Linked DNA regions of Homo sapiens: all the other regions are linked to region 3. The links come from fine-mapping of genetic effects on gene expression. A gene starts in region 3. Each other region holds a variant in brackets. All regions are shown on one strand. Distances are between the middles of the regions.

Region 1 (7,475 bases), 50 kb before region 3:
GCCACTGTATGAGTTTCTCCAGTCAGTCAGCTTCCTCATTTTACCTCCACCCAATTGGGAGATATTTTTACCATACTATTTACTAAAGCAAATACAAGAGTCCCAAACCTGGGGTGGAACTTTAACCACGGTATAGTTACTCATGTACTACTTATATACCCCAAATTTGAATGTTCATTTAATTCACCAGAGTTGCCTCCAAAGTCTGCAAACATTAAATTTCTGTTCAGAGGAAAATTTGTTACAGGTCCTGAAAGCCCAGTCCCCAAAAAGGAGGTCACCAAGTGCTGGGAGGAGTAAGCACCAGCCCTGGAACTGAGGTGTCCCCAGCAGGCAGCCCCTCCTTGGGAGCTGGTGGCAGTCACCTTCCTAGAGATACCTCTCCCTGGGGTCCTGCCTCTGTCTACATTCTCAGCACTTGTCATGTTCCCCCACAGTGGGCACCCCCTATATTTCCCAAATGGTGCACCCCTACAGTGTAGACAATCCATTTACCCCTGCAGGATACCCTGCAGTGCAGACAGCTGTTATGCCCCCAAACAGTAGTCACCAATGTGTAGATGCCATATATATCCCTATGGGTCACCCCAAGGTGCAGACACCTTCAGTGCTCCTGAGAGGTACACCTGCACAGTGGGCGCACTCCATTTCTCTCTTATTAGTTACTAATCACTCCCTACACCCCTTATGACACCCCATGGTGTAAACACACTACACCCACATGTGCGACATGTTCCTCATCCATGCCCCACATTCACATGTGACAGAGTATAGACTCCCTACTCACACACACAGGCAGACCAGCTCATTTAAATTAAGTACTCGTGTGCTCGGTCCTTTGGCAGGTGCTAGATGGAGGGAAAAACACCAGGATGGGGCATGGTCTCTGTCCTAAAGGGATTGAAGGCTCACCTTTGGATACCACTGAAGATGCGACAAGCATAGGACTGCACCAAAAGATGACACATGTGCCCACTGCACCCCACTCCACTCAAACCTACAGGATCAAGAGGAAGGGTCCTTGGGAAGGGGCCAAGATAGGGGCTCTGGCCAGGCCTGGACTCTCTGCATGACCCGGGGTAGGTAAATCCTTCCACACCCATGAAGGGAGAGTAGCGATTGACGGCTGCCGTGACACCTTCTAGTCCTGCCTCTGGGACATCCTTTACTTCTGCCCTCCCCAAGGCTGTGGTTTCCTGCTCCCTCACTGGCCCTTCCCCAAGCCTTTGCTCAGCAGGTCTTGCCACTGTCCCTTTACAGTACAGGTTTCATTTGTCCTTTGGGTCCACACCAATTCTCACGCCCTGTACAGCCACCATTTTCTGGCCACTCTAGGTTTCAAGGACCACCCCTTTCTGAGAGCCCTAGGGACCTGCCAGCACCTCTGTCTATGGGGACACCTCAGTGTTTGAGCCTGGCTAGCATTACCTGCAGAGTGTGGGTGAGTAAAAGCAGCTGCACAAGACCATGGCCTGCAGTGGGGGCTGAGGGTCAGTCCCCTTCTCCCTTCCCTTTGGGCCTGTCCTCAGAGCTAGCACATAGTCGAAACCATCCATGGTGTGGCTGAAACCTCACTCCCTTCCAGCTGGTAGTCCACGAGGCTTCTCCCAGTCAGAGAGCCTGCACCACCCCCTAAGACCAGCAGCGTCAGCGTCACCTGAGACCTTGCTACAAGTGTAGAATCTCAGGCCTCCCCTCAGACCTGCTGAGTCAGAATCACATCTCTGCATTCATACGCCCTCCAGGTGATGCTGGTTCACCCTGAAGTTTGAGAACTACCGCACTGGAGCTGCGCTACCCATTACTATAGCCACCAGCCCCACGCGGCATGAACCCTTGCAGTGTGGCTAGTCCGAACTTGAGATGTGCTGTAAGTGTAAAACACACATCAGATTTCCAAGACTTAGAAAAAAAGAATATAAAATAATTCATCAGTAATCTTTTATGTTGATTTCATGTGGGAATGCTCATCTTTTAGATATATTGGGTTAAATAAAATGCATTATGATAATTAGTTGTATCAGTTTCTTGTGGCTACTGGAAAATTTAACATTACATATGTGACTTGAGGCCTTGCTCAGTGGCTCGTGCCTGTAATCCCAGCATTTTGGGAGGCTGAGGTGGGTGGATCGCTTGAGGCCAGGAGTTTGAGACTAGCCTGCCCAATGCTGCGAAACTCCATCTCTATTAAAAATATAGAAATTAGCTGGGTGAGGTGGTGCATGCCTGTAGTCCCAGCTACTCAGGTGGCTGAGGCACGAGAATTGCTTGAACGGGGGAGGTGGAGGTTGCAGTGAGCCAAGGTTGAGCCACTACACTCCAGCCTGGGTGACAGAGTGAGACCCTGTCTCAAAAAAAAAAAAAAAAAGAAAAGAAAAAAAGAAAAAAGAAAAGAAAAAAGCATATTTACATACATATGTGGCTTGCTTGCATTATATTAATATCGGACAATGCTTCACTGGAGTGTATGTCTCTAGGGGAAAGTGACTCGCATTTACTATTGATTGATTGGAGCACAGACTATAAAGTTAAGTGCTAATTTGTAGAAAACTGATAAGATACAAATGATATTTGTCAGTGGGAGCTAAAAATTTTGATGACCTGATATAAAAATTAGCCGGGCGTGGTGGCAGGCGCCTGTAATCCCAGCTACTCGGGAGGCTGAGGCAGGAGAATCACTTGAACCCGGGAGGCGGAGGTTGCAGTGAGCTGAGATCACGCCATTGCACTCCAGCCTGGGGGACAAGAGTGAGACTTCGTCTCAAAAAAAAAAAAATAAAAAAAATAAATAAAAACTTTGATGACCTGGAGGTAGAGCATGGAAAGACAGATAATAAAGACTGGGAAGGGTGAGTTGGGGGGCAGGGAGAAGAGAAGTGGGTTATAGGGTACAAATAGCAAGATAGAAGGAATAAACTTGATGTTTGATAGCAGAGTGGGGTGACTATACTTAGCCAAAATGTATTGTACCTGTGTGATGGACACCCTAAATATCTGGATTGGATCACCACACATTGTATACTTTCACTTGTACCCTGTGAATTTATACTCCCCGCCCCCAAATTCATATGACTTGGAAACAAATGATATTTGTCAGGAGAAGTAAATAATTTCTGTTTGGTGGAGAAATTAGCCCTAAAGATGATAAAATTGTCCTATGGACATTAACTAGCTTTATATCTAATTTGGCCATCTTATTCCAGTATTTTCCACACAATCCCTTGCCTCTCCCTCCCTCCCCTCAACCCCTTTCCATATACGCACGCACTCACACACTCGCACATGTATCACTTTCTCTTCGTCTTCTTTGAATCAGCTTTGTCATCCCATTGGTTCCCTCATCAATAAGTTATAGAAAACTTTGATACATGCTCAGTAGCAATTTGTATGAGAATCACGCTTTTGACATTTTGAAGACTGTGCTTTGGCAAAGGTGACCCGCCCCTAAAGGCTCCTGCCTTCCAAGGCTGGACCTGGAATTAGAGGACTTCCGTTGGGGTCTAGAACCAGGAGCAGTGCCCGGGCTCTCCCCTGGACCTAGAGAGACTGCCGACCCTCCGGGTGCCGCTGCCTGGTCCTCTCCTTGCCCACCAGGGGGAGACAGACACACCGCAGAGGCTGGAAGGGCGAACGTGAGAACAACCCAGGAGAATTCTCCCTTGGCTGACGCCCAGGGGGTGACACTTTATTCCACCTGAGCAGTCAGGGAAGGATGAGAATGGAGTCAGGGAAGAAGAAGGAGGGGCAGCAGGTCCTCCAAGCCATGTCTGCACAGAGGCCAGATGTGGGGGCTGGGGACTGGGGGAGAGTGAGAGACCTGGTGGGCAGGGGAGTTGGAGGGAGACACACACATGGAACACATGTGGACATGGGAACTGCGGGCAGGTGTTCCCCTTGAAAGAAGAGAGCCTGGGAAGGGGCTGGGTAAGTGAGGACAAGGTTCTGGGCCTGGGACACCCTGTAGGGACTTGAGGCAGGAAGGGATGTGCACTTTGTTGAGGGGCTTGAAGCCCTGCTTGTCAGCATGGAACCACCCCCCACCTCTAAAGCTTGGATGAGCCTGGGGGTGTTCTCTGAGCACCCCTCCCCACTCCTGGCCCTATGGGGCTGAAAAGGAGTCTAGGAAAGCCCGTTTTTCCTGACCAGGATGGGGGCAGGGGGCAGGGAGTGGGGAGGAGTAAAGTGAGCCCAAGTCCACAGCCCTCTCTGACCTGAGGATCCCCATGGAGGGTGACCACTGCAGGACCAGTGCCCAGTGCCATCCCACTGTGGCCATGAGGCTCTTGGAGGGCATGGCTTCCTAATCCAGACCCCACAGAAAAGGGAGTAAGGGAAAGGCCAAGTCGCAGAAGCTTCCATTAGGATTACTGGAAGAAAACACCATAAATACAAGCATGACTTACAAATGAAATGCATTAGGGAGGTAACTATGCAAAAACAAAACAAACAAACAAACAACAAAAAAAGAAAAACAGGGAACCAGGTCTAACCCATCAGGCACTCAGCACCTTAGCAACTGCCCAGAACGCTGCTGAGTTTGTCACTTTGGCATTATCTTGCTCAATCCCCCAGGTCGTGTCGGTCTGCAACCATTCCCACTTTACGGATGAGAAAACCAAGGCTAAGCTATTGACTGTGACTTGACAAAGTCACAGTCAATGCTAAAGTAAGGATATGAAAACGGGTCTTTATGAACCACTGATGCCGACAAGAGTCCTAGAAGTCCTTCTAAGTGGGGCTCTCAGAGTCCGACCCAGGCTGGTACTGCAGCGGCAAGCCTGCCTTCAAAAGCAGCTCTGAGAGGCAGGCTGTGTGGGGACCAGGATAGTATGTTGTGGGGATTTCCTCGAGGTTACAAATTCAACAGGGTTGCAGAGGTCAAACTCAGGTCCTCTTGCTCCTAGTTTTGGGCTTTTGGCTGTTGTGACTGCTGCTATCAGTCGAGAAGATCTTCAGTATTAAAAAACAATGGAACCAATAGTTAAAAATTGTTCTAGCTCATTGGGGCTATATGGGCTTCATTATTCCATTCTGCCTGTATTCCACATTCTCAATAAAAACTTTAATGAAAGACCAGAAGAAGAGCTGTGAACAGTGGTCATCCAACTAATGAAGTATCTAAAGGATGGTAGTTATGCATCATGACTCTGATGCCTGTGACTTAAAGGAAAGCTCAGAGTAGTTCACCCACACACCCACCTTACCA[C/T]ATCCTGAACTTGGTTTAGCCTTCGTAATCATGTCTATAAACGCTTTTTATTCCTCCCCATAAAAACAGCTCAAGATGAAATGAAAAGAAACGTCTTGTCCATGGAGTATTTCCTACCAAAGAAGCAAACTCTGGGTTGAGTATGGCTAAAGTGCAAACATTTAACTTATACACTACTTCTCAGGGGTGACACCATTGCATTAACTCCCCAAGCACAGTGCTTTACTCAAAAGAGACACTCAGTAGAGAAGGCAAGTGTGAAGGCAATTGATGTGAGTCCACTGTTAAATTCTAGGTTTTCAGGGGGTAGAAGGCAGAGTGGGATGGAGCTGCTTTTTTTTTTCAGTCAGGGTCTCGCTCTGTCACCCAGACTGGAGTGCAGTGGTGTGATCTTGGCTCACTGCAGCCTTGACCTCCCAGGCTTAAGTGATCCTCTCACCTCAGCCTCCTGAGCAGGTGGGACTACAGGTCACACTACCATGCTCAGCTAATTTTGTTTATTTTTTGTAGAGACGGAGGTCTCAGTACGTTGCCCAGGCTGGTCTCAAACTCCTGGGCTCAGGCGATCCTTCTGATTCAGCCTCCCAAAATGCTGAGATTACAGGCATGAGCCACCATGCCTGGCCTGGAGCTTCTTTTGGAAGACAACGTCCAGGAACTTTACAGTGAGTTGATGCCTGCCTGATTCCCTCATGCCCCAGCTGCAGTGTAGACTGTCAAATGGCTCGCAGCTGCCCCAAGGTAATCTGAGAATTACCCTCAGCCAAGAGCATATACTCCCCACCAGTAGCCCACAGCCAATGACAGATTGACATTACAAGGAGGACCAACTCTCTGGCCATTCACACTCCAGACCTCTGCATGGGATAGGCTGACGCTAGACTCCGACCGAGACCACCTCCTTGTTAAACTCCCTCTATACTCATTCCTTTTCTCCTGAGAGCTCTCCTTTGATAAACCTCTTTCACAAGAATCCCCATCTCAGGCTCTGCTTCCAGGAATCCCACCCTAAGAAAACTTAGGTCACAGAGCTAAGGCTTTTCACCAGCTTTTTCTTCCCTGCATCCCCATGAGATACTTAGGGCTGAAATTATGTTCTCACTTCCAAAGAGAAAGCTGTCAGTAACTCAAAGAGCTGGAAGGAGAGCCCGAGTGCATTTTCCACTACAGGTCTGTCAGGGGCAAGGAAGAACGTGTCTAGATTACAGTGCTCCCTAAGGGAACTTTTTCCAGAATGATATGCATTAGCCACGCATGGCTACTAAGCACTGGAAATGTGGCTAGTGCAACTGAGGAACTGAATTTTATTTCATTTTAATTAACATAAATCTATTTTTTTTTTGAAACGGAGTCTCGCTCTGTTGCCCAGGCTGGAGTGCAGTGGCGTGATCTCGGCTCACTGCAACCTCCACCTCCTGGGTTCAAGCGATTCTCCCGCCTCAGCCTCCTGAGTAGCTGGGACTAAAGGCGACTGCCACCATGCCCAGCTAATTTTTGTATTTTTAGTAGAGACAGCGTTTCACCATATTGGTCAGGCTGGTCATGAACTCCTGACCTCTGGTGATCCACCCGCCTTGGCCTCCCAAAGTGCTGGAATTACAGGCGTGGGCCACTGCGCCCAGCCATTTTAATGAACATAAATCTAAATAGTCACATGTGGCTCGAGACTACCATATTGGACAGTGCAGATCTAGAAAGAAGGTATGCAGTGAATGGATATACGAGCTGGGGCAGGATGTTCCAAACAACAGTGTGTCCTGTGAAGGCCTTGGGAAAGACAGCAGGTTAAGAGTGAAGGGTAGATTAAATTGGATATGTGTTTCCAAGCCCAAAGCTGGCACTGCAGCCTGAGATGGGGAAATAAGGGGACAGGGATCTCCGCTAATTTTTATCCTAAAAGATTTGTCTTGGGCTCCCATGAGCCTCCGAAGAAACTGAAGCAGTTTCTGGCTCTCCAGCGTGTTCACTGTCTGCTTCTCTCTACCCTCAGCTCAGGGACAGAGGAGGACACAGAGGGCTGGGCCATTCATCCCCTCATTCATTCCATACACCCACTTAAAAAGATTTATTAAATACCTTCTATGTGTTAGGCACTGCGGCATTGTATAAAATCTTAAGGAAATTACAACCCAACAGGAAAGAGAAACTCAGGAAGACAGAGTGGTGGGCACGGCAGGAGGATGTGCCAAGTGTAATCTGCAGTGGCCACTTATTTTGCCTAGGGGAGGCGGAATGCTTCCTAGAGCTCCAATTTGGTCTTGGGTGATGG
Region 2 (7,475 bases), 62 kb before region 3:
CCCTCCCATGGTTCTCTTTGCTGGCAGGAGAAATTGGTGACCCTCTGTTCTCTCCATCCTTCACATTCTAAGCTCCAGACACACCTAAGAAAAATTATCCAAAACTTGGAAATAAGGCAAAAAAAGTGACTGTGTATCCTTTCAAAGCCACCGTAGAGCATTATCAAATAAGCCCATCTTAAGAGTCATCTTATTCTGGGGCATGTGACGTCTTTTGACTTCACGCTACTGGCTAGGGCCCAGGCTTTGCTCGGTTGGATGGATGTTCACTTGGAGGAGGCTGAGAAATGGCTGATGACTTCTCATTGGTAGAAAAGACAGTCCCCAGAGGAAGGTTACAAGTTTATTGCTCTGTAGAAGCAGTTTGCAGCCAGCAATCTTATTCCAGCCCTCCTTGTTTTACTGGCTTCAGTCTCTCACTGTCTCCTTTAAGCCGCTCTGTCATCCTGTTAGCTCCCTCACTGATGAGTTAAATAAATCTTTGGCATATATTTGTATGTTATTTATTTATTTACTTATTTACTGAGACAGAGTCTTGCTCTCTTGTCCAGGCTAGACAGACTGGAGTGCAATGGTGCAATCTCAGCTTACTGCAGCCTTGACCTCCCAGTCTCAAGTGATCCTCCCACCTCAGCCTCCCGAGTAGCTGGGACTACAGGCATGCGCCACCACACCCAGCTCATTTTTCTATTTTTTTTAGAGACGAGGTTTTGCCATCTTGCCCAGACTGGTCTTGAACTCCTGATCTCAAGCGATCTGCCCACCTCGGCCTGCCAAAGTGCTAGGATTACACGTGTGAGCCACTGCATCTGGCCATGTTATGTTCTTAATGTTTTGAACGTGGGCTCCAAATCTCTGCCTTCCCACCCACATACCTTCAGCCTAAGGTCTACTCTATCTAGGGCATTCCTCCCCCACTAAGAACCCCTGCCTTCTTCAAACCTTGCTTGGGCAAGTCCTTCCCTGAATATGGGCTACCCTCTGGATGGGTCACCAAGCAGCCCCCTTGCCCTCCCGCCCTCCCTGGCACAAAAGTCTGTTATTGTTTGAGTCACCATCACAGGCCTGCCTGAACTGTGCAGAGGGGGTTCCCTGGTGGGAAGGGACCCCATTCTGTGTGCAGGGCAGGGCATCAGCACAGTTCTCAGAAGCTTCTGGGCTGCACCTAGTTGCTCTGACTGCCCTCAGGGTAGCCGATTCTGTGGGACGCTGCGGACATGTATCATCCTCAGTTGTTCTCCCAGGCCCTGAGCTTTCCCATCCTCTTTCCAGCGTCCCCGGACTCTCATACAGGGACCCTGGAGCACAGAGGCTCCATAGAGCATTTTCCACAGCCCCCTCCCCTGTCTCAGCCTGGAGGCTGCCCCACCTGCCCCTGCCTTGGATTTGGAGATGGTTCTGGGGCCCAAGCCACTGGCCTTGCTCTTGTGATAGGCATCCCAGCCTGATCAGCCCCTACATCAGGCTGAGGAAACCATGAGGGTGTCTCTTCCTGCATCTCAAGGTCATTCCCCAGGAACTAATCTCAAGATGCTGTTAGAAAAATACATTTTTGTGCTCAAATAAATTTGCATCTCCTGTTTCCTAGAAGGTTCACAACGTACCCTGGCACATGAAAGGCTCTGACAAATTCTTCAGTAGCCACTTACGTAATTTCAACACTGATTCTTTCCTAATGCTCTGTTGCTCTGACCCATTATTGTCTTGGGGAATACTCAATAGGACGTGCTCTAACCCAACCTCTTCCAGATCAGTGCCCCACAAACTGCACTGCAGCCTTCTGTGTGGGTGTGAACGGTGCCCTTCTGACTCATATATTCATTCAATAATTTGACTATTTATTAAACACCTGCTGCATGCCAGATTGAGTCCTAGGGGATCCCGTGGAAGCATCCCTTAGCCAGAAAAGAAAACACCTGTAAGCCTCTTAGGGAAGACACTGGCCCTGGCCCCCACCATCCCCATCAACAAGGACCTGTTCTGCCCCACCCACATCCTGTTGCCTCCTCCTTTTCCACAGCCAGTCCCTTCCTCTGTCCTCCCAGTGAGTTTCCAATCACCACGTGGATAGGAAAGGCTCTGCTGGTTCAAAGGTTCTGCTGCACATGGGTAAAGTGAGAGAACAGCCATTTCATGAATGGGATGTGGGAAGATGACTTGGTCTCAAGTCCTAATCTGTAAAATGCGGGGAGGGAAGCTGGGCTAAGCCTCTTCTAAGGTCAGTCCCCTTCCATGGTCAGCGACCCAGTCCCTCACAGTGGTGTGTGCTACCCTCTGGTGGACACAGGGAGGCACAGGTACAGGCGTGCAGCCCACCAGCTCTGAGGGTCTTTGCTCTGGGCTCAGCTGGATGGGGATGGAGTGTTGGGGTAGTTTCTAGACCTCATCAACTGTGATTTGAGTCTCTTCCCCTTGGCCAAGTGGTCAACTGAGAGCATCCAGAATGGTGACCATCCCAGGCTGGGAGGCCAGGGCAGAGGGGGCCAGAGGGACCTCCCTGGACCCCAGCAGAGCTCCCTGCTCTCCGTCCTCCAAGAAGAGCAGGTTAGCCAGCATGAGGCACTGGTGAGATGTGGACAGAGCAGGCCCCTGTAGCCCAGCTGCTCCACAAGGGCCCTTCCTTCCTGCCACAGTGAGGCAGGGTGGATCACTCACCTGGAAGCCCCTCTCCGTGGGCTCTGGGGCAGGCCTGGGGTGGGGAGCTTGGGGGGCGCAGCACGGGGGCGAAGGCGCTCCTCTGTTTGACGGCGGAGATCATGTTGACAGGCGAGAAGGAGAACACGCTGGTGGTGGGGGCAGCGGCCGGGAGGGACATGGAGGAGGCAGCCGCCAGCGGGGGGCTAGAGGGCATGACTCCGGGGCGGGGCGGGGAGGGGCAGGCGCAGCAGGGAAGGTGGTGGGAGACACAACAGGGAGACAGCACCAGAGTGAGCAGCTTGGCTGGGGCCCCACATGGGCTGCTGACACAGGTACCAGGCTCAGATCTCACTGGGAGCTGTGAGGGTCCTGGGCCAGCCCTGACCTCTCAGCGGTTCTGGAGACCTTTTCTCGGGGCTGGGGATGACAGGGCCAGACCAGGTAAAGACAAAAGCAAAACCAGAACATTCAAAAAAAACAAACAGTGGGAGGTACCCCCCAAAAATGAGATGAGCAACAGCTGGACTACTTCAGGATTTCTGCTGAAAACCCCTGGGATTCTGAGATGCTAGGAAACATTTATGAGCCTTGCTTGGGGTGCCAAGGCTAGAGTCATAGTTCAGGAGTCACAGAAGAGCTGGAACAAGTAGTTAGGGATGAAGTTTGGGGGAACGCACAGGCTCCTGTTATAAGCCTCTCTGCCCAGCATCACAAACAGCACTCCAACTTCCTCCTCAAATATGCTCTCCTTGCCAATGTTCCCTATGCTCCTCTGTCCCTCTCCCACTTCCCCCTGCACCCTGGGGTACTTTGTTTCCTTACAGCTTAATGCAGGTCCTTGTCATCTCCAGCCTGGGCCCTGTGGGGGGGGGTGGTCTCCTGAATCTCCCACTTCCAGCTGGTCAATTTTAAAGCAAATTGCAGGGATGTACATCCTCAGATCTTCCTGCTCTCAAACTCCCTAGCCACCCAGGCTGCGGCTTGCCCTCCTGGGAATGGCAAGGGAGCCTCCTGCACACAGACTTTGCCTGCCCCCTCTTCCTGCAGCCTCCTCTCCTGGGGGCTCAGGCCTGGGGCATCGCTGGATCCCACCTTTCTACATCCTCATCTGAACCCAATTCCCTGCCTCTCTCCTGTAAAGACTGGTAAGGCTGTGATCTGAGTATTGTCCAGGCAGCAGGCAGTGGGGTGGGTGGGGCTTCCTGGAAGAAAGCAATAGCCTGAGAAGGCTGCCTTTGGCATCAGAGGGCCCTCCTACCTCCCTTGATACAAGAATGCCTTCAACAGCTGCCCCTCTTCCAAATGC[C/T]CTCAGCCTCATCTCCTTTAAGACAACAGTTACTGCCAGCTGGAGAGGCCCCAGAGCCCGATGAAGGGCTTGAGACCAATGCCAGAAAATGTACTATAGCTCTCAATGCCCAGGGCTCACGGCCACATTTTGTACCTTGGGTAGGTAGTGTGGGGAGTTGTGATTCATTCCAGGGTTGCTGGTGGCTGAAGCAGAAAAACAAAGAGAGACCCAAGCAAACAGCCCCTGAGCCTCTGGCTGGGGCAGTTCTGATGTCACTCCAGGAATGTTCTCGCAAACTCAATGAGAATGACACCCCTTGGAGTCGGGCCACAAAGCACCCTGAACGTGGGGAGTGGAAGGGTACCTGGGTAAGCCTCGGTCAAGACAATATCATGAAATGGGACCAACCCTCCCTCAAGTCCAGTGTGTCTCCAGCTGATGCTGGGTTTAAGCAGCTCTAGAATTCTTGATCTTCTTGCTGAATCAGAAGACCCCAGCTGGGCTGGGTTCTGCACACTGGGGCAGAGTGTTCCTCTACTGTTGACCACAGTGTATGTGATGTTCCATACCCCCACCAGTGTTGGCCCAAGGGGGTGCCCACAGAGAGGCTGTGAGGGTACTGCCCCAGAACTGAAGGGAAGGAGGAGCAGTCAATCCTGGCCTGAGCAAAGAGCCAGGAGAGGCAGGGGCCTTGGGAGGGACACCAGAAGGCCATGGCCTATGTGGACTCTGGCTTATGGGGCCTTGGGTCCCAGAAGTTGAGCCCAGGCCAGAGGACAGGGCCAGGCTCAAGCCTTCAGCCAGAAAGCAGGCAGGACACACGCCCTGCAAGGAAAGCCAGGCTGGTGGACAGACAGTGCAGTCTCGGCAATGGCAAATATGGGACAGGGAGAGGAGAGGGCACCACGGGCAAAGCCATGACCAGTTCCTTCTGGGACAGCCTTCACCACCTCTCCAGCTCGGCAGAGTCGCCTGGGACTTCAGGGACAATCTCTCTTATGATTGATAGGGAGGCTTCTTGCAGGTGACAGGAGTGGGGGGATCCCCCAAGCCCTGGGCTTTGCATACAGTGGGCGCTTTATAAATGCCTGCTGAATAGCTAAGCTAAAAAGAGCTGTGAACATGCTGATCTGGAACTTGATGATGGAAGAGTCTTGAGGGCAGTGTAAAATGACAAGGCATCAAAGCCGTTCGGAAGGTCACTCACTCATGACATGCAGACATTGCCTGTCCACCCAGCTCTGAGCTCCCCACTCTAAGAAGCCAGATGGGATGTGGTCAGCGCCCACAGTCAGGGCTGGGACTCCGAAATCACACACTGGCCCTTTAGGCACAGTGGCACATTCAGATCCGAGATCAACCTTAAGCAGGGGGTGGAATTGACCCTATTTGACTGCGAGGAAACAAGTTCAAATAAGTAACTTGCTGAATGCCCGGCAGCTCCTGATTTGGACACTGAAACTCAAATTCTGTCTGATCACACAGAACTCGCTCGCTCTGCCGGACGACATCGCGGGGACCACATCCTCCCCACGCCCACCTGGCCTCTGGAGTCCTGGGAGCTGGGGGGCGGCTGGAAGCCGGCTTCCCTCGAGCCCTGAGTTTCCTTAGGCTTCCGGCAGGCGGCGCCAGCCTCCTCCCCAAGTCCGGGCGCGAGATGGGAAGGGGGCGGTGTCCCAGGTTTCAGATGGACGCCCGCCACCCATTAGAGCCCACTTCAGGGGGACCGGAGGCCTAGAAGCGATGTGCATAACGGACCGGCAAAGAAGGCTAAAAGTGCACGGAGTACTCTGGCCCCAGGACCCCGGGATGTGCAGCCTAGGGGTGGGGTTGAGGTTCTGCGGCAGGGGAGGTCCCAGGCGGGGACGGTGGGCCTGACCCCGAGGGCTGAGCCAGGGTCGACTCTCACGGCGCCGGCGCCCCAACCTCTCCGGGATGGGCGGGGGCGGGGCTGAGTCCCGTTCCGCTCCCCGGCCCCAGACCTTCCCTCGCGGGCGGGGGACACTCACTGGCGAAGGGCGAGGTGGCGGTGGAGCCATTGAGGAAGCTGGGGGACCCAGGCACGCCGAGGCCGGCCACGCCCGGCGCGCCGTAGCCGCCCAGGCCAGCTCCGAGGCCGCCGCCGTAGCCGCTCTGCTGCGAGCCGGGGCTGGGCGCGAACCCGCGGGGGGACGCGCTGCTGCAGCTGCGCGCGTAGCCTGCGAGAGAGAGCGCGGCCGTCAGGGGGCGGTGCCGGCCGGGGAGGGGCGGTGGCGGCGCCCGAGGACGGCGGGGAGGCGCGGCCCACGCACCCGGCTCGGGCCCCGGGGTGGCGTCCCCGACGGCGATGGCCAGCGGGCTGCTGAAGGCGTTGATGCCCACGACGGCGGGGTGTGGGTGGCTCGGGGCCAGGGGTGCGAGCGGCCCGGGTGCGCGGGGGGTGCTGTACAGAGCCTCGGCCACGTCCGCCGCGCGCTTCAGGAGCAGCTCCTGCGAAGACAAGAGCGGGGCACGGCCGGGGCAGCCGCGGGCGCCGCGTGCTGGGGGGCCCCGGTCCCGGCGGCGCTGGGAGGGCGGAGGCGCCATACCTGGTTACTGCCGGGCACTCCGTACAGGGCTTCTGCCAAGTCGGCCGCCCGCTTCAGCAGCACTTCCTGGGGACAGGGGGAGAGACAGCGGGACGGAGGGGCAGCCCCTGGGGGCGACCAAGGGGCCCTCGGGAGCCCCTCCTCACCCCCTTGCCCACAGGACACCCTCAGCCCCGCCCCGCCCCGCCCCTCTGAGTACCTTGGGCAGCCTCTCGGGGTCTCCGGGGTGTCTGGGAATGACTTTCTGTAGCCTCTGGAATCCGTAGTCAATGGTGGGCTCGTTCAGAGCTGGGGAAGGGGGCGGCGTTTGGAGGACGTCTCCCCCGCAGCCCCCCACTCCCAGGGTGAGACGCAGGGCGCCAAAAGCAGGCCAGCGCCCAGTCCGAGAGCCTCGCTGCAGCCCCCTCCACCAGGCCCAGCCCAAGTCCCCCGGAAAACTCCAGGCACCCCCGGCAGCGAGATTCAGGGAAGTTTCAGTTCTTTCGTTTGTTTACTCAACAAATATTTACTGAGCCAGCCTCTGTCCTCGGCCCTAGGCGCTTGGTATGAACACACATGCACCCATTTGTGATTAGAAAAAAGGGAAACCGTATACACATATGAGTTATAGTCCTAAGGGCAGGACTCGATGGAGAGTTTTCTCTTTTCATCTGGTCAAATCAGGAGTTTATTATAAAAAAGAAAAAACTTAACAATCTCCATTTATCACGGCTCAAGTGGACTCTCTGCAGCATCTGAAGGCTAGAGGTTTGCATGCACCCCAGGGAAGCAACTGGAGAAGTGGGTGGCTTGGGCTGGGGCGGGAGGATGGAAGTAGAGAAGATCCGGCCAGCGGCCAGATTCTACATTGCATCTCCACGTGTGTTGTGTTCACTGCTTACCCTGGCGTTGTGCAAGGGGTGTGTGTGTGTATGCGCGTCTGACCCAGCTCCCCACGCCCTTCTCCTCCTCCTTCCCCTTTTCCTGATCCCCGCACCGCCCTT
Region 3 (7,475 bases):
GCTGGGGAGGAAGGCTGGAGTCAGACCATGATAGGCCTTGAATGTTGGAGATATCCATGAGGAAGCAGTGGGGCTTGGGGGTTGGTCACTTTATTTTATTTTATTTTATTTATTTACTTATTTATTTTTGAGGCACAGTTTCACTCTGCCGCCCAGGCTGGAGTACAGTGGTGCGATCTTGGCTCACCGAAGCCTCTGCCTCCCGGGCTCAAGCAATCCTCCCACCTCAGCCTCCCAAGTAGCTGGCACTACAAGCATGCTTCACCACGCCCAGCTAATTTTTGTATTATTAGTAGAGACAGGGTTTCACCATGTTGGCTAGGCTGGTCTCGAACTCCTGGCCTCAAGTGAAACGCCCACCTTGGCCTCCCAAAGTGCTGGAATTACAGGCGTGAGCCACCGCGCCCAGCCTGGTCACTTTATTTGTAATCGGAGAGAGACATGATCTTAAAAAAGTACTTTGGAAATACTGCTTTGGTCCCCAATGCAGGGAAGATGGTTTTAGGGGAGTGGTGAATGGCTGGGGCTAGGCACTGGGCCAGGAGGCTGAGGTGGTAACCAGGGTGCAGTTAACCTTCAAGCCAGGGAGGAAGCGGGTGGAGGGCCAGGGGGTTTCATTGCTAAAAGTGGTGGCTGAGGGCACTGAGATTGGGACTAGGACACGGAAAAGAACATTCCTAAGCCTTGACAATCAGGCAACTGTGGGGTGAGGCTGAGGAAGGTGTCAAAGCCAACTCTCGGATCCCAGGGAGTCTTTTGGGAGAGCACTTCCGTGAAAGTTTCTCAGAGATGAGAGGGAGAGAAACCAGGCCGTGATGAAGGCGGAGGCAGGGCCAGGGGGAGGAATTTTCATTGTTGCTGTTTTGGGATGAGAAGACCCGTGCAGAGGACTGACTGAGGAACCAGATACAACTGTAGTGATGACAGACAACACGGGGAAGAGTGGGGAGGAAGGATGAGGCAGCTCCCTCTGGGACAGGGAGGAAAGTCAGCTGAACAACAAAGCGAGTGGGGGCTCCTAGTCTATGTCCTGAGACAGAGAAGTCTCCACACTTGGGGATTAGCAGACCGAGCCTGAAGAAAGCCCCTGTTCACATTGCGGAAGCCCTCTGCATCCCAGCAATGTGGCCCTCACAATGTGGGGAGTCAGACTGGACACCCCAAGCCCACTCAACCCCACTATGCGCAGACACCACTGCTGTGGCCCATGCTCTGGGGGAAGCCTTATCCCCACACTTCTTGAACCCCACGCAGTCTCCAAGGGCACTGCCTCCTTCACGTCTGCTTCCCCTTCATCAGACCTGCCTCTGGGTAGGCACAGAGGGAAAGGTTGCAGAGAAATGGAACCTTAACTCCCAGAGGCCCCCATCAGCACTCCTCACCCACTCTTACAAAGAGCTCTCGCCACACAGCAGGTGGTGGGGCCAAAGAGGGGGCCATGTTAAGAAACTAACCTTCTCAAGTTGAAAAAAAAAAAAGCCAGAACCAACAGAAGAATAGGCAGGAGGTGGAATTGTAAGCATAGCACAGGAAAACACAAGTTAATGGGAAGAAAAATAGGAAGGAAATACACTAAAATGTTGACAGTAGTTGTATTACAGAGGAGGGACTAAATTTTTTATTTTCCAATTTTTCTAGAATATAGCTATATCCCTTGTAAAAGTTTTGGAAATTAATTCATCCACAAGACCCTTTCTCTTCCGTAAGAGATCAGCTCCAGAGCCCCCCAGCGTTCCCTCCCGACAGCCAGGAAAGGACCGGCGTGCAGAAACGGCTTCAGTTTGCACATGAAGCGCGGTGTGTGTCTGTTACACGGTGAGGTTGAGGCGTCCTGCGGAGTGTGAATGTGGGCTCCTGTGTCAGGCCCGGTCTGCATTAAGCCCCCCATTCAGAATCCCTTCGGGCTGCTGCAACAGCTCAGACTTCTGGGAAGCCAAGTGCCCACCCTGTCCCAGCTGTCAGCAGAGCTGGCACCTCCCTAATCCTAACCACTGTGACTCCCCATAGGATACCTAAATGCCTCCCTCCATGGTCACAGCTGAAGGTGCAAAAAGCCAGGGGGTGCAGGGGCTTTGGGGGCAGGTCAATAAACTTTTAAAGTTCGCTTTCAAATCCTGGAGTCAACCCCCTACTGAGACTCCCAGACCCCTGCAAAGGAGTCAGAGGAGACCGGCGCGGGTGCTGGGTTCCCAGGGACTCTCTGCCTTCCAAAGGACCTACCAGAAAAACACCCGAGGGAAAGGCAGGGGCCCTGCCCAGTTCCCAGGCCAATCAGTCCAGCCAGGCCGACTGCCCACCTCATCTCTTCGCCACCGTCCAGCCCCCAGCCGCTTCTCTGGCTCTGCACACCCCCATCCGCCAACTCTGAGGGGCGTGGGAAAGGAAAAAGGGGGCTGGGTTTCGTGCCTTTCCTGACAGAGAGCTGCGGAATTGGACAAGGAGAGTCACTGGGACTGCCCAGGAAGGAGGGGCTGGACGTTCCTAGACGGCCGGTGGCTGTGGGTCATGGCTGGGAGCTCTGCCTCTTCTCTCAGAGCCATAGACAGCCCGGCTGGGGTGGCGTTCACCGCCGCACCCGCGAGCGGCCGTCAGAAATCTACCGGGGCAGCCCGGAGTGGAGGCAGAAGCCCCGCCCCAGCCCGCCCCACAGCCTCAGGAGGCAGCACAGGCACTCCGGACGGGGTGGGCCGGGGAGCTCGCCGGGACCGTCCAGAGTTAGGGCTCCTTCCGCCCCTGGCTCCAGCAGCTCCAGCAAGCTGAGCTGAGGCGGCGCGCAGCCGTCCAACCCGAGCGCACCGGGTCCGGTCCGAGCGCTTACCTCTGCGCCGCGGTGCTGGCGTCCAGGATGCCCGCGCCCTGCATCCAGGAGCGCACTGAGCCCAGGCCGGCGGGCAGCAGCGGCTCCTCCTTCAGGTTCAGCCCGCTGCGGGGCAGAGCGTCCTGCGCAGGGAACATGAGGGCGCGCGGTGAGTGAGCGCCCCCGCCGCCCCGGATCCGGTCCCGCTGAGGCTGCGGGCGTCTAGCTCAGCCCGACCCGACGGCACCAGGCGCCTCCAGCAGCGCAGCGCCGAGTCCGGGTGGCTCAGTGCGCGCTCGCCTCTTGGGCGCTCCCTCGGAGAAAGCGGGTCCGCGGGCGCCGGCGCTGTCCCCTCCCCTCCTGGGGCGCTGGGCGGGGAGATGGAGGGATTCCCCCGCGGCCTGAGCGCTGGCGGGCGGACTGCGAGCGGGGCGGGGAGGGCGGGGAGCGGAGCCCGCACCCGGTCCGCGCGGAGGCGCCCCAGAGGCGCGCTCTGGCGGCTGCCCGGGGCCGCGGTCGTCGGAGGGGGGGCCCGAGCGCCCCGGGAGCTGCCTCGGGCAAGGCGGGGGCGCGGGGCCGCCCGCCCTTTCCCCCTCGCCGCCCCCACCTCCCGCCCGCCCGCCCGCCCGCGGCGCCAGCGCGGGGCGCTGATTACCATCCGGGAGGCGGAGGCTGCGGGCGCGGAGCTCGGCGGCGGCGGCGACAGTGGCGGCAGCGGCGGCAGGAGCAGCAGCAGCCGCGCGTCCCGGGGAAAGGCTGGGGCCGCGCCGGGCCAGCAGACGCCGCCGCCGCCAGCGCCAGCGCCCCGCGTGCCCCGGCGTCCCGGCCCTGCCGTAGCCCCGGGCGGCAGCACCTGGAGCAGCAGCAGCAGCAGCCCGGCCGACTCCCCCCGGGGCCCGGTTCCCGCGCCGCCCCGCCGCGGCCGCCGCCGCCCGCCGCTCCCCGGGGCCTGGCCTCGGGCCCGGGCCATCCCGCCGCCGCCGCCGCCGCCGCCGCCGCTCCCGGGGGAGCGGTAGCCGAAGGGAGGGAGCGCAGGCGGGAGGAGGGATGTCGGGAGCGGGCGGGCCCAGGGGACGGGGGCCCGGGGGAGGCGGGGGCGGGGCGGCGCGGCCGGCCGAGGGGCGGCCGGGGACGTGACATCATCGGGGGAGGAGCGGCCGGGCCCGGGCCGCGGCGGCGGGGCGGACCCTGGCGAGTCGGTCGCCTGGGCTGGGGGCTGCGGCCTGGTCGAGGCCGCGGGAGGGAACGGAAGAGCCCGGCGGGGGCCACGGAAACCCGCGCAGGGAGGATCCGGGGCCGCGCGGCGAGGGAGCCCGGCCCGAGCGGGAGGTGCGCGCCCCGCTGCGCTCGGGAACCTCCGCGGCCTCCCCGTCGCCGCCGGACGAAGCCCCGGCGTCTTCGCGGCCTCATCTCCCTCCCCCGGCACCCGCCGTACTCTCCGCGCCCGACGCCTTGTGCCTGGACTTGCTGCTCATTTTGACGCCTCCGAGCTTTCGCTCTTGACGTCTTTCTCCCGCGTGACTGTACTCCCGCATTTCCCCGGCGACCCTGACCTCACTTTCACCCCAGCTAAGGACTGAAACGTCCCTGCCGTAGGCTGCGGCCCCAGACAAGCTGGGCGAGGTCCCTGCATCCAACCATCCCGATTCCTGATGCTGGGTTACCTAAGCCTAAAGCATTTTCAGTTTCCATCTGTGCCTTTCAGGAACCTCCTGATTTCTGATTGCGAGTTGGACAGGTAGGCTCAGAGCCCAGCTCACCTCCTGTTTCTCCCCAGCCGCGTCCCGTCTCAGATCCCATTCCTTTTTTTTTATTAGTTCCTGGCACAGAAGTCGTCTGGCCCTTGACCGTGGGGCAGAGACATTTCTGCCCCTCTCCCCACGTTGTCCTGGCCAGGCTTCGAGCAAGCCCAGACTGAGTCCAGCACTTTCCTGCAGAACAGCATGGGGGCCACCTGCCCTGCCTGCCATGTTCACGCTCAGACACCCCTGCAATAACACCTTCCTGCTCCAACTCACTCCCATCCTCTTCTGGGGGGCCTCCAAGTGTGAGTTAGCGTTCTGTCACACATTGGCCCAGATGAGGCGTCCTGGGGGCACTGCTGGTTCTCCTGCCATCACAGAGGCCCTCTCACCTCCTTTCCTGGTCTCTTTACCACCCCTTCTCTCTATGCCTCTCCCCATCACCCACAGGGGGCTGCCATTCCCACCAGGACTCCTTCAGGTCTCAGCTTTTACCCTAGGTGGGATTATCAAACATGGGTTTCTCCTTAAGACAATTCTTAAGCCAGTCTCTTTCTCCATCTCCTGATCTGCCTCTCTAAATCTTGCTTCTCACAGTGTGGTCCCCGGACCAGCAGCATTGACATCACCTGGGAGCTGGTGAGGAATCCAGACTCTTAGGCCCTGCCGGGACCTGCTGAATCGGAACCTGCAATTTACCAAGACCTGTACACACATTACATGTGAGAAGCCCCCCCAGAGCTGTTCCACACTTGCTCCACTCCTCTCCCCAACATTCAGACCCACCTCTGGCTCTCTCATTTCCAGCAGACACCCTTCCTCTTACCCAGTGGAGAGGACTCAGGGAATCTTGGCAGAACCCTGCTGGCACCATCAGCGGCGTATGCTCCTCCTCGTTTCTGTCTTTTCACCCGTTCTCTTCTCTCGGTCTTCCACTGTGGAGATGGATGTGGAACCTTTTTGCTTAGTCCTGTCTTCTGCCTTTCCTGAGATTACCCCACCGATCTCCTGTTTGTGTCTCAATATGTTCTTTTCTCTGCTCAGATCTCCCCATTCTTAAAAGAACTGTCCCCTCCTCCTCGCCTCCTTCTTCAATTTCTGCCCCTCCTGTGTCTGAGACCGTTCACAGGAACGCTCTGCCAAGGATGCCTGACTGGCCCCCAGCAAGCCACTCCTGGGGCCCTTGTGTGCTGGCTCCCTTCCAGCCCTGCCTTCCTGCTTCTGCTCTCAGACTCCGTGGTCTCTCTTGGGCTTCAGGGCCTGGGACCTCCTGGCAGCAGTGGGCTACCCCACCCCCCAACCCCACACACACGGGAAACCACCCTGGTGACCAGATATATATATATATATATATATACACATATATATATGCATGTGTATGTATTTACACACACCTGGGAAATATATATATCTGGTGTATATATATTTACACACACCTGGGAAACTGCCCTGATGACCAGAGCACACTGTCTTTCTCCTCTGCCCTCTGAGCACCTCAAGCTGCTGTGCCTGGCGCTCTTCTTCTGTTCTCCCCTCACAGAATTCACGTTCCTCCACAGTCTCAGAGAACATCTTTGAGGAAATGGTCTCCCCATATGGGACTCTCACTTCTGTCAGTCCTGAACATCAGTGGGTGAGGACAGGGCTGGGCTTGGCCCTCAGAGAGGAGAGGAGCACCTGCCTCCGGGGAGGGTCCCTATCCCAAGAGGCTCTGTCCCTAGGCTGGGATGGGGCTTCTTGGTCTCCACAGGTTCACTCTCCACCAGCCAGCTCTTCTTCCTGACTCCCCTGTGTCTGTGCTGGGCACCTCCTCCTGCTGCCCACCAGGCTTGGAGTTTGGGAATCATCTCCAATACTTTTCTCTCCCTGTCCTGCAGCTACCTGTTTGTTTGGTCTTAACGGGTCCCCCTTCCCTTTCCTCCCTACCCCAGTGCCCACAGAGAATATCTAACAGCAAAACGTACTTTTCCTCCACTGGACTCCACCCTGGCTTGGAGCAGATATGGAATTCCCAGTTCTGCCCACAGCCTCCTCCCTTAGCTCCCGTCCCCAGCTGCTCACCCCCAAACACCCCCATCCTCCTGCCACAGTTTTAAAAAGTGTTGCTTGGATTGGGCCATCGCCTGCTTAGAAACTTAAATGTCTTTTGTGGCTTCTCAAATAAACATTTAGGCCCTTAGTTTGGGAACATTCTAGGCCCTTTGATGCCCTATCCAATTTCTCTTGCCGGCCAGCCTTACCTCCACTCCCTTGCTGTGTGAGTTTCTTGCTTATCCAGCATGGGAGATCACACCGTTTCCCAAACCCAGCTCCCTGTCTCCCAGCTCCAGCCTTCATGCTGGCTGGCCCTTCCTGCCGGAATGCCCTCACTTTGCAGCATTCCTTTTTGTGATGGTTGAAGTGATTTGGTTGGAGTGCTTTTCATTCTGGAAGGTTGTCCCCAAGATAGATTGGGGGATAGATGCTCAGAATTAACCTGCGCAGAAGGTGGAATCAGTCAGCCCAGGAAAGTGGCACTGAGTTAAGGCTCAGTCATAGCTGGGGCAGACTCCCAACTTGCGTGGGTTTCTGTTCTATCCTAACCACATGGAACAGAAAACCAGCCAGGATGGTGTTTGAGGCTTCCCAGAGCCTGCAGCCCCAGAGAAGGGCTCCTGGGTTAGAGCTGCTGAACCAAGGGGTGATGAAGGGAGGAAGGTCAATGAGCAGTTCTGGGGCAGCACTTGGGGGTCAGAGGTGAGTGTCTCTGCTTTAGATCCAGGTGAAAGTCTGTTGTTTCTTGGAACCCTCTGTGCGCTTTTATTTTGCATTAGTTATCTTATTTTTTAACCTTTTATTTATTTATTTTTTTAGAGTCAGGGTCTCACCCTGTCACCCAGGCTGGAGTGCAGTCGCGCGATAATAGCTCACTGCATCCTCAAACTCCTGGGCTCAAG
Region 4 (7,475 bases), 42 kb before region 3:
GCGTCAATTTTAGCTCCTAAGTAATTTGATTAACATGTTGATAGGGCACTTACTAGGCTCTCCAAACCTCAGGGCTGGGCATGGGGCCTGAGGAGAAGGGGAGGGGGTGTGGAGAGACTGCTAAGGGGCCCCCAGCTGCCCACCAAGAGTGGCAGTGGCTCCACTTTCCCCAAACCAGGCCTGAGGGGAGAGGAGGAAGGGTGGAGTGGCCACTAATGGGAGGCCTCTGGGCATGCCACATGCAGCGGCAGGAAGGGGCTGGTGCATGGTCACCATGGTGTGCCTGTGTGGACACAGATGTACACATGCACCCACACAAGTCCTCTCAAGCCTGGGGAGTCTTCTGTCAATGCAGGCTATCAGAGTCCACGAACAGAAGAGAAGGAGAGATAGAGAAAAAGGAGGGAGGAGGGGGGATGGGGCATGGACGGCAGCAGAAGCCACAGAGCTGGAAGGGGTGCTTGCAAGTCAGAAAGAGATTTAAAGGAGAAGGTGGGAGTCTGAAGGAAAGAAGTTGTGGGTTCCTCTGGCCTTGGGCAGAGGTGGTGGTGTAGATGAGACCCAGGCTCTAAGACCAGAGACCTTGGCACCTCTTATCTATGAATCAGGTGAGAGGTGGGTAGCGGGTATTAGCAAGGCCTGGCATCTTCTACAATTCACCAAGCACCCAGGGCAGAGAGAACAGACAGAAGATTAAGTGAGAATGTCCCCCTTCCTATTCAGAGAAAGACCCATCCCCAGCCTGGGATGTCTACCCCTGACTGTGGGCTCTGGTTCTGGAGGCAGGACGTTCCTCCTTGGTTCCCACTGAACTTTTTTTTTTTTTTTTGAAATGGAGTCTCGCTCTGTTGCCCAGGCTGGAGTGCAATGGCGCGATCTCGGCTCACTGCAACCTCTGCCTCCTGGGTTCAAGTGATTCTCCTGCCTCAGCCTCCTGAGTAGCTGGGACTACAGGTGCCATTTTTTTTTTTTTTTTCACATTTTTAGTAGAGACGGGGTTTCACCATGTTGGCCAGGCTGGTCTCAAAGTCCCGACCTTAAGTGATCCGCCCACCTCGGCCTCCCAAAGTGCTGGGATTACAGGTGTGAGCCACTGCGCCCGGCCTGAACTTTCTTGCTGCCGTCCAGGCTCAGCTGCACTTACTCTAAGATGATCGGTAAGGGTGGGGTGGCAGGAGGGTAAGAAATGACTCTGAGGCAGTCACTGTGCTGGGCACTGCATGAATACATCCTACTAACTCCACAGCATCCTCTCCTTCCCAGAATCACAGGAGGCTCATTGGTCAGCTCTATTTTACACATTAGGGAACTGAAGCTCTGGGAGGTGAGAACTTGCTCCCAGTTACATAGCCAGACATCCCAGGTTGGCTTGAGTCCCCAGCCCTCAATAACTCTCCACTTTGTGGAGAAAGCTTATTATTCAAGTTGCAGGCGGTTCACTCACTAGCCGCCTCCACTCCACCTATTATGGTTCCCAGGCTGCCTCATGCCTGCGGTCCCCCTCTTCCCCCAATCTTCTTTTCTTTTCTTTTTTTTTTTTTTTGAGACGGAGTTTCGCTCCTGTTACCCAAGCTGGAGTGCAGTGGCGCGATCTCGGCTCACTGCAAGCTCCGCCTCCCGGGTTCACGCCATTCTCCTGCCTCAGCCTCCCGAGTAGCTGGGACTACAGGCGCCCGCCACCACGCCCGGCTAATTTTTTGGTATTTTTAGTAGAGACGGGGTTTCACCGTGTTAGCCAGGATGGTCTCCATCTCCTGACCTTGTGATCTGCCCACCTTGGCCTCCCAAAGTGCTGGGATTACAAGCGTGAGCCACCGCGCCCGGTCCTCTTCCCCCAATTTTCTATGGAGGCACTGTCCAAATCTCTGCTCCTGTCTCAGCATGGAGGCCAGTCTGGCCCTAAGCTTGGCTTCGGCTGCCCAGAGGTCTCCTCATAAGTCCTTCCTCTTCATTAGGGGTCCTTTGTCCTTATGACTGGCATCTCAGCCTATATGAC[C/T]TTCGGAGCACATGAGCGAATCTCTCTTGAACCCCCTCTGCTTCTCCCTCTCTCAAATGCTCTCAGCTCTGAAAAGAGTGGTGGGGGTTGGGGGGAATGGGGAAGGAAGTGCAGTGCATTCAGGTGGCAAGAGGGAAACCTTAGTCTCACCTCAGCACTGACCCAGCAGGGAGGTTCTGGAACCTCAAGGGGGATTGCCAGAATGGATCTGGACAGAAGTCTGTGCTTGCAGCATGAGTGTGGGAGATCCTGCTGGAAAGCGTGGAAGGAGATGGATGACATTGGGCTAGTTTTGTGGCTGTAGAGGAAAACAGGGAATGTTGCATTGACCAGTGGATTAGGAAGGGGGCTGATTCTTTTGCAGTTCCCACAGCCCCTTTCATCTAATTGCACTTATAATGTGCCTGATCTAGGGTCTAAATTTGCCCCCAATAGAGTAGACCAGAGCTTACCTTTGCCAGGTGGCTCGGACCTAAACTATTCCAATAGTGTCACTGAACAACACCCACCAGGCAGCAGGCACAATTAAATGCCAGGGAGTATCCATAGCCCCCAGCTTCTATCTATCCCTAGGAGCCAGAGAAGAGCTATGAGCCTCCCATGGGAGGGTATGTTTCCCTACCCCTGCCACAGGGTCATCCTGGCCAATCAAGCAAATATTTAAAGTCTTAGAGCTGTGATGTCAGATACAGTAACCATGTGTTATTTCTTAAATTTGATTTAAATTAAACACAATTAAATATTCAATTCCTCAGTCACGGTAGCTACAGTTCAAGTGCCCAATAAATATGTGTGGCTATTGGCTACCATATTGGTTGGTACAGAATATTTTCATCATTGCAGAAAGTACTATTGGATAGTGTGGTCTTCAAGCCTTACATTGTTTTCTATTTCTTCTTATTATTATGTAATTATAGATAATCTCTACTGACCTTTCTTCAAGTACACGAATTTTTTTCAAAATTATAAATTGTTGTTTACATAATTATATTTGTCTCCTCAACTGCTCTGTAAGCTCTCAGAGGGCAGGGATCATTGTTTAAGCCTCTCTTCTCCCAAGCATCCATCATAGTCCCAGCCCCACAACAGGTGCTGATTGATTCATGATAGAATTCAAGAGTCAAAAATTACTGTGACTGGATGAATGCTGGACTAAAGCCCCCAAGGCACTTTTAACTTGTGCCCAGGTAAGAAATAACAATTACAGGGACAGGACTTTGGGAATTGCTAAGTAAAGACCTCTGAAAATCCATTCTTCCATAAAGAAACAAGAACACTGGCAAACATGGTCAAAATCAACTTTCTCAGAACTCTAAAAATTAACAACATGTGTGCAACAACTCAAGGAACATTGAGGCAAGAAAAATGGCTGAGTTGTAATAAGAACAGAAAGCTTTGTGGTGTTTTAATTTGCCCTATTCCCATCCCCTACTCCCCAGCCCTGTTGAAGACCAGCTACCTTGCAACCACTATTGTAGTTGTGAAAACTAGCAAGCTAGCAACCATAGGAAGGGGTAGAGTGGGTTTGGAGCCTCTCAACAAGCTGTATTCCCAGTCAGTTTTCACTCTTTAACCTTTCTAGCAACTCCCTGACAGCTTTATTTGCAGAACTTGTTATTTGACCCGATTCAGAACTTACTTAGTGGGAAAGACCCTATCTTCAGGGTGTTTGTTGAAAACAGCCAGCGGCAATTGCTTAACATTGCAGCTACATGAGGCAGCAATACAAGTTGGGGGCAAATAAAAGTTTGGCCATAATATTTTAAAGGAAAAAGTGGGGAATAAGATGTTCACAGGGGCTCTGAAAAGCTCTGACATATTCCTGGAGATCTAGAAAGCTATGCATATGTGCAGGGAGAGGCACATGCCCAAAAAAGGCATGGAAAGCCCCTGGTCTCTCACCTCTGGTTTATCCCAAGGCCCTGAGCAAGCAGGAAGTGAAGGTCAAGGCAGAGTTGTAAATCGCTGGAGCACTGAAGGCATGTCTTAACACACATACAGAACCTTTTGGCAATGGGTTGAACACTTATTGGCATTCAAGGCATTTAAAGAAATGCCTGTCCAATCATGGCCTGATAACTAAGCCAAGAGCAGAAACTTCAGTGATTATACATGACAGGAAATATAGACTTTATATAATTAGTCCAAGAAAATCACTAAACAAACAAACAGCAATAGCAATAAGAACAAAATTGGGAGGGAGGATCTGATTGCCAGAGTGCAACATTATATGATTAAAATGTCCAGTTTTCAACAAACAATTATGAGACATGCAAGGTACAGGAAAGTAAGACCCATACATTGTAATAAAGCAGCCAACAGGAACTATCCCTGAGGAAGCCCAGAGGTTAGAATTTTTAGACAAATACTTTATTAATTAATTTATTTTTGGAACAGGGTCTTGCTCTGTTGCCCAGGCTGAAGTGCAGTGGTGTGATCATGGCTCACTGAAGCCTTGACCTCCCAGGTTCAAGTGATCCTCCCACCTTAGTTCCCAAGTAGCTGGGACTACAGGTATGAGCCACCATGCCCAGCTAATTTTTGTAGGTTTTTGTAGAGACAGGGTTTCACCATGTTGCCCAGGCTGGTCTCAAACTCCTAGGCTCAAGCAATCTGCCCTTCTCTGCCTACCAAAATGCTGGGATTATAGGAGTGAGCCACTGCAGCTGGCATAGATAAAGACTTTAAATGAGCAATTATAAATATGTTCATAGAACTAAAGGAAACTATGTCTAAAAAATTCAAGAAAAGTATGAGAATGAAGTCACACCAAAAAAATCAATAAAGGATTTCAAATTATATTTTTAAAAACCCATGAAATTCTGAAGTAGAAAAGAACAATAAGTAAAATTTAAAAATACCTGGAACAAGCTTCTCTAACCTGCGACCCACGGGGCACATGCAGCCCAGGTTGGCTTTGAATTAGCCTGCAAATTTGTAAACTTTCTTATTATGAGATGTTTTTGCTTTTTTTTTTTTTTTCTCATCAGCTATCGCTAGTATTAATGTATTTTATGTGTGGCTCAAGACAAGTCTTCTTCCAATATGGCCCACGGAAGCCAAAAGATTGGACACCCCTGACCTAGAGGAACTCAACAACATATCTCATTTGGTGGGACGAAAAAAAATCAGTATACTTGAATATAGGCCAATTGAGATTATCTAGCTCAGAAGCAGAAAGAAAAAAGAATGAAGAAAAATGAACAGAGCTTAAGAGACCTGTGGGAGCCATCAAGCATACCAGTATATGTATAATGGGAATCTGAGAAGGAGAGTAGAGATGGAACAGGACAGAAAAATATTCAAGAAAATGCCCCTAAATTTCCTAAATGTGCTCAGTAATGAAAAACATTATTGAGCACATCTTAAGAAGCTCAGTAAACTCCAAGTAGTATGAACACAAAGTGTATGATCTATACAAAGACACATCATACTCAAACTTTTGAAAGCCAAAGAAAAAGAAAGGATCTGAGAAGCAATGAGAGAGAGAGAGAAGTAACTCGTCATATATAAGGAATCCTTAATAAGATCACCACATAACTTCTGAAACCATGAAGGACAGAAGGCAGTGAGATGATATATTGTGTTAAAAGAAAACAACTATCGACCAAAAAATTGCATGTCCAGCAAAACTATCAACTTCTAAAATGATCAACTTCAAAAATGAAGGAGAAATTGAGACATTTTCAGATAAACAAAAACTGAGAGGATTCATCACTAACAGGTTTGTCCTACAAGAAATACTAAAGGGAGTCCTTCAGTCTGAAATGAAACAAGACAAGACAGTAATATGAATTAACATGAACAGATAAAGAGCACTGGTAAAAGTCACTACATAGGTAAACATAAAAGACAGCATAAATGTATTTTTGTTTGTAATGATTTTGTTTTCCTATCTAATTTAAAAGACAACTGCACATTTGTGGGGATAGGGGATATATGGGAACTCTTTATAATTCCGTCTCAAAAAAAAATAAGAAAAAGAAAAAATAAAAGAAAAAGAAAACACAAAGCACAATGGCAGACATAAATCCTGTTCTATCAGCAATTACATTAAATATAAATGGATGAAATGCTTCATTAAAAGGAAGAGATTGGCAGAATGGATTAAAAAAGAAAACTACAACACAATCCAACTATATGCTGTCTATGTGAGACATACTTTAAATTCAAATGTACAAAAGGCTTTGAAAATAAAGGGATGGAAAAAGAGATAACATGTGAACCCTAACTGAAAGATAGCTGGAGTGGCTATACTAATTTATGAATAGACACTAAGATAAAAATTATGAGAGACAAAGAAGGACATGTTATAATGATAAAAGTGTCTATCATCAGAAAGAAATAACAATTATAAGCATGTGTATCTAATAACAGTCCGGGTGTGGTGGCTCATGCCCATAACCCCCGCATGTTGGGAGGCTGAGGCAGGCAGATTGCTTGAATCCAGGAGCTCAAGACCAGCCCAGGCAACATGGTGAAACCCCGTCTCAACTAAAAATACAAAAAATTAACTGGGTGTGGTGGCATGCACCTGTAGTCCCAGCTACTCAGGGGGCTGAGGTGGCAGAATCAGCTGAGCTTGGGAGGTTGAGGCTGTAGTGAGCCCTAAGGCTGTAGTGAGTTGAGACTGCATCACTGCACTCTAGCCTGGTCAACTGGAGTGAGACCCTGTCTCAAAAGAAAAAAAAAAAAAGCACATGTATCTAATAACAGCTCCAAAATGCATGAAGCAAAAACTAACAGAATTGAAGGAACAAACAATAATAACTGGCAACTTCAATACCCTACTAGCAAGAATGCATAGAACTATTAAGTTTGACTGGGGCCCAACCTAGCATGCAACTGATAAAGAAACTCACATTCTGTGTGTTGAAGCTCTGCACACACAATGTGAAGTGGCAAGTGAAAGGTGAGGTACTCCTGGCTTTAGCTCTATTCCTAAGAATTCACGTTCACATCCCAGAAGCACAAGGCCCATCAAGTCACAGGCAGATGGAGGCCTGGATTCTGTGCCAGTTCCCTGTTCTAAAAGGAATACCATAGATTACAGGGGTTTGCTTAAGAGAGAGAGGCATCTGGTACCCACGGACAGAGAAAAACTTGGTTTGTTCGTAGGAAGAAGGACAGTAGAAGTGGCCAGACAGATGTCCGCAGCAGAGAATGCTGGCTGTCCCCGTTATCTAGCTTCCTTCCTTTCTTTTCATGATAGAACCCTCTGAGTCTTACCTAGGTTGAGGGATGCCCATTTAGACGCTATCTTTCCCAGCCTCCCTTGCAGCAGGGTGTGGCTAATGGCATGAGCAGAGGTAAGGTGGGACCTTTAGGTTATGTCTTTATAAGTAAGCTGCATGCCCTATTTCTTCTATCCCCTTTTGGTATCTCTGAGCCTGTTTGGGCTATACAGATGAGGGTGTCACCTTAGGGGAGAGCTGAGGAAAAGACTGCTTGGTCCTGGATGACTTTATGGAGAAGAGCC

Alleles and levels. Alleles are on the strand shown, and positions count from the first base shown. SD is a standard deviation of normalised expression in the study named. Not every link is listed here.
With allele T in place of C in region 2, the expression in thyroid of the gene that starts at base 3,821 in region 3 is higher (small effect, 0.24 SD a copy in GTEx).

What was found. PIP is the estimated chance that this variant, and not a neighbour inherited with it, causes the effect.
Region 1: its variant is fine-mapped to the expression of EBF4 in whole blood (TOPMed, PIP above 0.99).
Region 2: its variant is fine-mapped to the expression of EBF4 in thyroid (GTEx, PIP above 0.99).
Region 4: its variant is fine-mapped to the expression of EBF4 in whole blood (TOPMed, PIP above 0.99).

The regions. Positions count from the first base shown.
Region 1 is chr20:2,739,386-2,746,860 of GRCh38, reverse strand. All of the region lies in intron 6 of EBF4 (EBF family member 4), which reads right to left. Among named protein-coding and RNA genes, the nearest start is that of EBF4, 50 kb to the right of the region's middle. RefSeq lists a silencer at 3,516-3,565. The variant C/T (reference allele first, on the strand shown) is at 5,207.
Region 2 is chr20:2,751,005-2,758,479 of GRCh38, reverse strand. It overlaps EBF4 (EBF family member 4), which reads right to left. Exons shown (of 17, transcript NM_001395167.1): 11 at 6,692-6,780; 12 at 6,493-6,558; 13 at 6,217-6,394; 14 at 5,935-6,123; 15 at 2,656-2,853. Among named protein-coding and RNA genes, the nearest start is that of CPXM1, 46 kb to the left of the region's middle. RefSeq lists a silencer at 6,076-6,255 and enhancers at 6,837-7,348, 7,417-7,475. The variant C/T (reference allele first, on the strand shown) is at 3,944.
Region 3 is chr20:2,689,126-2,696,600 of GRCh38, reverse strand. It overlaps EBF4 (EBF family member 4), which reads right to left and starts at 3,821. Exons shown (of 17, transcript NM_001395167.1): 1 at 2,819-3,821. The coding sequence starts at 2,955. It overlaps LOC105372507 (a long non-coding RNA gene), which reads left to right and starts at 3,981. Exons shown (of 3, transcript XR_937210.3): 1 at 3,981-4,535; 2 at 5,137-5,261. RefSeq lists an enhancer at 1,666-2,650.
Region 4 is chr20:2,731,319-2,738,793 of GRCh38, reverse strand. The region is part of intron 6 of EBF4 (EBF family member 4); the gene reads right to left. Among named protein-coding and RNA genes, the nearest start is that of EBF4, 42 kb to the right of the region's middle. RefSeq lists an enhancer at 1-232. The variant C/T (reference allele first, on the strand shown) is at 1,997.